Homo sapiens: one gene and its partner. The protein of the gene in region 1 purifies or fractionates together with the protein of each later gene. This does not show direct contact. Each region holds a gene or a part of one and is shown on either strand. Other genes may lie near its edges.

Region 1 (3,500 bases):
TAAACCCAGCACTTCGAGAAGACTGCTTGACCTCAGGAATTTGAGCCCAGCCTGGGCAACATGGCGAAACCCTATCTGCACGAAAAACACAAAAATTAGCCGGGCGTGGTGGTACGTGCCTGTGGTCCCAGCTAGTTGGGAGGCTGAGGTGGCAGGATCACTTGAGCCCAGAAGATGAGGCTGCAGTGAGCCAAGACTGCACCACTATACTTTAGCCTGGGTGAAAGAGCAAGACCCTGTCTCCAAAATATAAATACATAAATATAAAAGTTTTTTTAAAAAATTTTAAAAATAGCCAGCATGGTGGTGTGCACCTGTAGTCTCAGCTACCTGGGGGGCTGAAGTGGGAGGACTGCTTAAGCCCAGGAGGTCAAGGGTATAGTGAGCCATAATCATGCCACTGCACTCCAGCCTGAGCGACAGAGTAAGACTCTGTCTCAAAAGAAACAAACAAACAAACAAACAAACAAAAAAACTTGCCAGGCATGGTGGCTCATGCCTGTAATCCCAGCACTTTGGGAGGTCCAGGCAGGAGGATTGCTTCAGGCCCCAAGTTTGAGACCAGCCTGGACAAAAGTGAGACCATTGTTTTTTGGTTTTTAGATTTTTAAAAAGAAAATAACTACACATAAAACAAAGCCAATTAATGGACAATAGGTAACATGCTCCTTTTCAGAAATGTTTTTATAACATGGCAAATCCTTTAAGTTTACAATAATATAGCACTAAAATAGCATGTTTTCTAAACACTATTCCATGCAGTTATTTATCAGTGGTTCCACATATACCCATCACTTCATTTTAAAAAGGATTTGAGAGAGTTTGCAAATCACTAAAAAAAAAAAAAAAAAAAAAAAAAGACCACAAATTTGACACTCAGTTGCCCAGGAACCAATCTGAAACATAATTCACCATATCCATGAGGAGTATACTACTTATTCCCAACTTTTAAAAATAAGAAATGGCTTAACCAGAAATTATTCAGAATCACAAAAATGAAAGTGGGGAATGGACAGGGCATGACTTTCTTGTGTTTAGAAGCATCCACTTCCTGGGAACTTGGACTTTATATTAAGAACTGATACCTAATATTTAAACCATATGTCACTCAAAATCTTAAAATTTCTAATACATGCTACTACGCCAATAAAAATGATCATATAATAAATGGCTTCATGATAGTAAAAACTAGTAATTTTTAAGCCCCAACCCATAATCTGTATTTATGAGCAATATTCAATTTTATACAAATTTTCATGGCAATTAAATTTTGGCAGTCTCTGAAACTGATTTAATAAGCACTAATATTCTTTTCTTTGTCTTTACATTCATGGTTTCCAAGTCCTATCAATTCGTCTTTCATACAGCCTCTTCGTAAACTAACTATAAAAACAGATTCACAGCCAATTAAAGAAAGCGTGCTTCTTATACTCTTATATTCCTCCCTTCTATTCCATTTTCACTGAATGAACAAATAATGAAATAGTTCAGGCCCTACTCATCTTTCTCAGAACTACTGTAATAGCTTTCTAAATAATTCATCTGCTTTTCCTTCCCACCTATCTTGAATATTGTCACCAATTTTCTAATACTGCTTTCACGGTGCCTTGCCTCAGTTCAAATAACCTTCAATGGCTGTCTTCCCAAAGCCAAAAGCTCTAATTCGAGAAGGGGTGAAAAACAATAACTTTAGAAACAACAATTAAAAAAAACAATTTTGGTTTCATAATATAAATTACCAAAAGCAAGGGCAACTGGATAGCAGAGCATGGATTAAAGTGGAATGATAAAATCCAAATTCCTTAATTTGGCATTCAGTATCTTTCAGAATCCAGATCTACATATTTTCGGTCTTAATTAACCTTGGTTTAGAACATGTCCAGAGACCAGTTCGAAGTCACCCTTAATTATGTTTGCACTGCTCTCAAATCGATTTCTAGCCAGAGTTTTCTGCGCATATCCTCAAAGCCTAACTTAACCAACCACTAAGCCAAGTATTTTCCCATGAAAAATGGCCCTCAAGTGAGAGGTTTTAGTCTCACTTCAGTTACTGCATTGCGATGGAGATGCTCTGGGCACAACAGCAAACAGTAAAATTACAACTTATTAACAGATGAAAATCAGGGCTTACTCATAAATAACGTAAACAGCAATGTTAAACAGACAAGTGTCAGTGATCTAGAAACCCTCTCTTCCAGGCAGGCTAGTCTATGCTTCTAACCCTGCTCTGCACATTTCTCACCTTTGTCTCACATCAGTCCTCTCAGTAGCCCTGAATCTTCCAAACTTATTTTAGTTCCAAAATCACAATATAATTATTTAATAAGCATATTTTTATTTTTTTAAAAAGCTAAACATTTTTACCATTGCCTGTTAGAGACCCCCAATGATCTGGGTGGGTAAGGCCACCTCTTCACTCTCCCACTAGTTTTTCTCACTAGTCTTACACTAGATTCTCAGACACAAAGAGCTCATTCCTGCCTCAGGGTTTTGCCCTGAAGTTGCTTGGAAATGTTTTCTCTCTGCAGCTCAAATCTCACCTTCTAAGCCTGTCTTAGTGTCACCTAACCTAAAAAAGCCCCCATAAATCCCCATCATTCTCTATGCCATTATCCTGTTTATTTTCCTCATAACACCACTATTCTGGGTTCTTTATTTATGTGCTTATTATCTGTACTCTCCCAAGGGGGAGCATGTGTCTTGCTTATTGCTATACCCTCAAAGCTTAGAATAGATCCTGTCTCTTGGTAGGTAATCAATAATGGGTTGAATTAATGAACAAACTCTTGAATGCATTAAGAAATCCAGACACATTGAAAATGGTTAACTATCCACAACCATAATCACAATGTTCTTACACTTACTAAAAAAACTAAAGTTTCCCAATAGGTATCATCAATATGGAATTAGGGAACTCTGTAGAACAGGCAATATTCTTTCCCCATTGCCTTCCAACCTCAGCATTCCAACACACAAGATTCCAAGAGAGTGCTGTCACCCCCTGAATCCCTAATGTTCAAAGACAGAACTATTTTCTTTGTTCCCATACCAATACAAGATTAGTATGCTTTTGTCAATCATTAAACTTCCTGTGGCCAGGCGCAGTGGCTCATGCCTGTAATCCCAACACTTTGGGAGGCCAAGGTGGGTGGATCACTGGAGGTCAGGAGTTCAAGACCACCAGCCTGGCCAACATGGTAAAATCCCGTCTCTACTAAAAATACAAAAATTAGCCAGGCGTGGTGGCAGGCGCCTGTAATCCCAGCTACTCGGGAGGCTGAGGCAGGAGAATCACTTGAACCTGGGAGGCGGAGGTTGCAGTGAGCCAAGATTGCGTCATTGCACTCCAGCCTGGTGACAAGGGGGAGACTATCTCAAAAAAAAAAAAAAAAAATTCCTGTTTAAAAATATATTTCATATTTTTCTCTTACCTCAGTTTCCCTCAAGTATGTCTTTTTCATAAAGAAAAAGGAAAAGATTGAGTTACTCCTCATCTTCTA
Region 2 (4,062 bases), on another chromosome or scaffold:
CCAGCATCTCTGATTCTCCCTGGTGCCCCCAGCTCAGGAAGAAGGTGGTAGTGGGGAGAGAGGGTCAGGGGGGCTTGGCAGGGATGCAGGCACCATGACTTTTGTGACCAGTTCCTAGAGACGCATGGGTGTAGCCTCAGGAGGAAAGCGAGAGGAGCTTTACCATGGGAACGAAGGAAAGGGACAACATTGGGAGGCAAACGTTGGGAGACTAGTCCAGAAACTTGCAGTTGAGGATACAACAGGGTCCTAGTGTTTCCTCCCTGGGTCAGCGTAGAAGTAGAGCTTTTTCACTGTCGAAGGCGGGATTGAAGTTAGAGATTGCCCTGGCAGAGGTTGGGGAGAGAGGGACTAGTAGGTGGTACATGAATGTCTTCTCTCATTCTGCTAGGTCCCTCTCAGTGGAAGATAGATAGGCTGGTGGGTGGCTTGTTCTAATTGGAGGCTGGGGAAGGAGCAAATGAGTGCCTTGGAGCTTGGGAAAGATTATTTGACAGCCTTTCCCATGATGTGGGGCCCAACAGGTAGCCACTTCAAGGGAGGGGGCTGTCGTTCCATTTGGATTTCGGAGAACTGGGCGTTCTCAAGATCCTTCCAGGTCTCTCTGGTGAGGCAGCAGCCATCCCCAATGTGTTTCCAGGTGGGCTCGAAAACTTGCTGCCACATGAAGGCCCAGCTTCCATATGGTTCTGCCACATGCTCCCAGAAAAAGAGCACACCTCCCTGGGAGGGATGAGAGAGTTAGTGTCACTTGGCTCCATTCTGACCCTGCTCCCTATCGCGCTGATCAAGACAGTCAAACTTCTTGGTGAAATGGGAGCTGCTGGTCTGAGAGTTCATGGAGCAAACTGTCGTGCCCCTGACCTTTTCTGCATCCCCTGCTACCGCCTTCAAAGTGCATGTGAAGAACCTCATAACTGAAAGGAGTGGCTGGTGGGAGATCTTTAAAGCCTGACCAGAATAACCGAGGGCATGCAGAAGGGGAAACTGAGAAACAGGAGTGGAGGGCTCATTGTATTATTATTATTATTATTATTTTTTGAGACAGAGTCTCAGTCTGTTGCTCAGGCTGGAGTGCAATGGCGTGATCTCGGCGCACTGCAACCTCCACCTCTCAGGTTCAAGCGATTCTCCTGCCTCAGCCTCCCAAGTAGCTGGGATTACAGGCATGAGCCACCACGCCCGGCTACTTTTTGTATTTTTCAGTAGAGACAGGGTTTCACCATGTTGGCCAGTCTGGTTTCAAACTCCTGGCCTCAAGAGATCCACCTGCCTTGCCTCCCAAAGTGCTGGATTACAGGCGTGAGCCACCTCGCCCAGCTGGGCTTATTGTATTCTGAGATACACGCACAACCTCTCTCACAAAACCCAGATGCATGCACAAGCTGCTTCCTGGACATCGCTGTGAACATCCCAGGGAAACCTCAGGCCCAACTCTTGACTGAAGCTGGGGTTCCTCAAGCTCCTCGCCTCACTATACTCTCCCTAGGTGATCTCAAACCTAGTAAGTCCAAAACAGCTTTCTTCCATCTCAGCAAATGGCACTTTTCATCAGCTCTCCCCTCAGTTGCTCATGCTAGAAACCTGGAAACTATTCTGAACGTTCTCTCCACAGTCTGATGGATTCTACTCTACTTCCCCTACTATCTTTACCTAGAACACTCTTTTATTTTCCCCACCCCGTCCACACTCTGCTTAATCCCTCAGATCTCTCTCTCTCTCTCTCTTTTTATTTATTTATTTATTTTTTTTGATACAGGGTCTCACTCTGTGGCCCAGGCTGGAGTGCAGTGGTGCGATCATAGTTCACTGTAACTTTGAACTCGGGCTCAAGTGATCCTCCCACCTCAGCTTCCTGAGTAGCTAGGACTATAGGCATGTGCCACCACGCCTGGCTAGCTTTTGTATTTTTTTTTTTTTTTTTTTTTGTAGAGACGGCATCTCACTATGTTGCCTTGGCTGGTCTTGAACTCCTGGGCTCAAGTCATCCTTCTGCTTCAGCCTCCCAAGCACAGATCTCGATTTAAACCTCAGTTCCTTAGGTGTCCTCCCCACTCCCCTCCCTGTCCCATGGTGGTAGGTGATCCTCCTGTTGCTTCCACAGCACCCAATTGTGCCCCGTCATGGCACTGGTCATGTCTCCTATTCACCAGCAGGTAGAGGTGGATGGGGTGTCTAATGTGCTACTTACTACCTCAGACGCCCCATTCTGGGGGCCGAACCCTGGGGCGGCTGATGCTGCGTTTGCCTGCCCCACACCCATCCCCTTCCCACCCTGCTTACCGGTCTCAGTACTCTCCGGACCTCCTGCAGGACCTTCCTTGGGCTCTGCACAGAGCACAGCACCAGAGTGCAGACCACCACATCCATGGAGCCATCAGCCAGCTGTCTCATGTCCTCTCCAGGAGCCACCACAAACCGCTCATATTGGAGGTGCCTGTTCTCAGCCATGCTCTTTGTCAGGAACTTCTCAAAGTGGGGATTTGGGTCTAGGCAGGTGACCCTGCAGCCCGGTGGGTAGAACTGAAAGTTGGCTCCGGTTCCGCAGCCCAGCTCCAGTAGGGCCACTTTCCCGGAGGCTCCTGTAAGCCCCTTTATCTGGCTGAAGAGCTCCCGTTTCTTGCTCTCCATCTTGCGGTTGCTCTTGGGAGTCAGCACGGCCATCAGGTAGGGGAAGTAGCTTTTGCACAGGGGCTGCCAGCAGCCCAGCAGAGCCATGAGGTGCAGGGGCAGGGTAAGAAGCAGCACCAGCAGCTGCAGGAGTGGGACCAGGATGTCCATGGCAGACCAGCTCTGAGCTGTGCTTCCGCTGGGGCACTGGCTTTTTCCCTGCTCAGCCTCTGCAGGCGCTGGCGTCCCCTCCCGCTGTGATAGGACTTTGCTCCTTGTCTCCTACTTGACAATTTCCTATTTGCCAGAGTTGAGTGGGTGTATGGAATTCCTCCAGAGGGCGCAGGTCCCACAGCCCCACAAGCTCTTCAATGACTTTTATGTGGGCGGAGGGACAGGTGGTACCCATGTTCCTGAGTTCTGGGGCACTGTGCCCAGCTGAAGGGGGGCAGGGGCTGCTGAGTCATCTCAGAGGGAGTGGGAAGGGGTAAGGGGATATGTTTCAGATGACAGACTCATGGCGGGGGAGTGTCGGGGGCTGGCAGGGCGTTGGGGGTGGGTTGGTAGTGGTGAATGCTGGGGACAGAGTTGACTCATGGGACATATCCTGGCCTCATTTCGTCCTCAGGTCAGGCACTTCAGAGGGGCCATAGGAAGGGAAGGGTGCTCTTGGCAGAGGAAAAAGTAGGTGTACAGGACAGAGACAGCATGCCCTCTCCTGGAAAGGGTGAGAAGTTTAGTTCTGTGGGGAATGGGGTAAGTTGGACAAATAGGGGGAAGTGAGGTCAGAGAATAGCCACTTTTTAGAGATCCTTCCCTCCCTCCCTCCCTTCCTCCCTTCTTTCCTTCTTTCCTTTTTTTGAGACAGGGTCTCTGCTGCCCAGGCTGGGGTGCAGTGGCAGCAGTCTGGGCTCACTGCAACCTCAATGTCCCTAGGCTCAAGTGATCCTCTTACACCAGCCTCCTGATTTTCTGGGACTACAAGTGCATACCACCATGCCCAGCAATTTTTTTTTTTCTGTAATTTGTAGAGACAGGGTTTCACCCTGTTGCCCAGGTTGGTCTTGAACTCCTGGGCTCAGGTGATCCACCCACCTCGACTTCCCAAAGTGCTGGGATTACAGTTGGGAGCCACTGCGCCTGGCTGAGAAGAATTCTTTTTACAAAACATTATTAAACAACTTTTTTTGGAAGAGGCAGTACATTCACTTAGTACAAAATTAAAAAGATACTAAAGAGATTACAGGGAAAATTCTCTCTTCTACTCCTGTGACCCAACCACTCAGATCTCCTCTCTGGAGGCACTAAATGCCATATTGCCAATTTCTTGTGAATCCTTCCAGAGATGACCTGTGAACGAGCAGGGAACACACACACCACGTGTTTAGATCCATGTACATATATACATATACATATTCCCTTTTCTTTTACAAATAGTAGTATATTGTACAC

Evidence for each region. The genes of interacting proteins can lie anywhere in the genome.
Region 2: the proteins of RTN4 (region 1) and TMT1B purify together in Homo sapiens (affinity purification with mass spectrometry; 3 studies listed by BioGRID and IntAct, with this or other methods). This does not show direct contact.

What each region holds. Positions count from the first base shown.
Region 1 is NC_000002.12:55,043,952-55,047,451, forward strand, and holds part of RTN4 (reticulon-4), read right to left. Parts: intron 3,376-3,500; exon of another isoform or gene 2,865-3,375; intron 1-2,864. UniProt on the Homo sapiens protein: Required to induce the formation and stabilization of endoplasmic reticulum (ER) tubules. They regulate membrane morphogenesis in the ER by promoting tubular ER production.
Region 2 is NC_000012.12:55,680,474-55,684,535, reverse strand, and holds the start of TMT1B (thiol S-methyltransferase TMT1B precursor), read right to left. Parts: upstream 2,801-4,062; 5' UTR 2,782-2,800; coding exon 2,284-2,781; intron 724-2,283; coding exon 487-723; 3' UTR 1-486. UniProt on the Homo sapiens protein: Thiol S-methyltransferase that catalyzes the transfer of a methyl group from S-adenosyl-L-methionine to alkyl and phenolic thiol-containing acceptor substrates.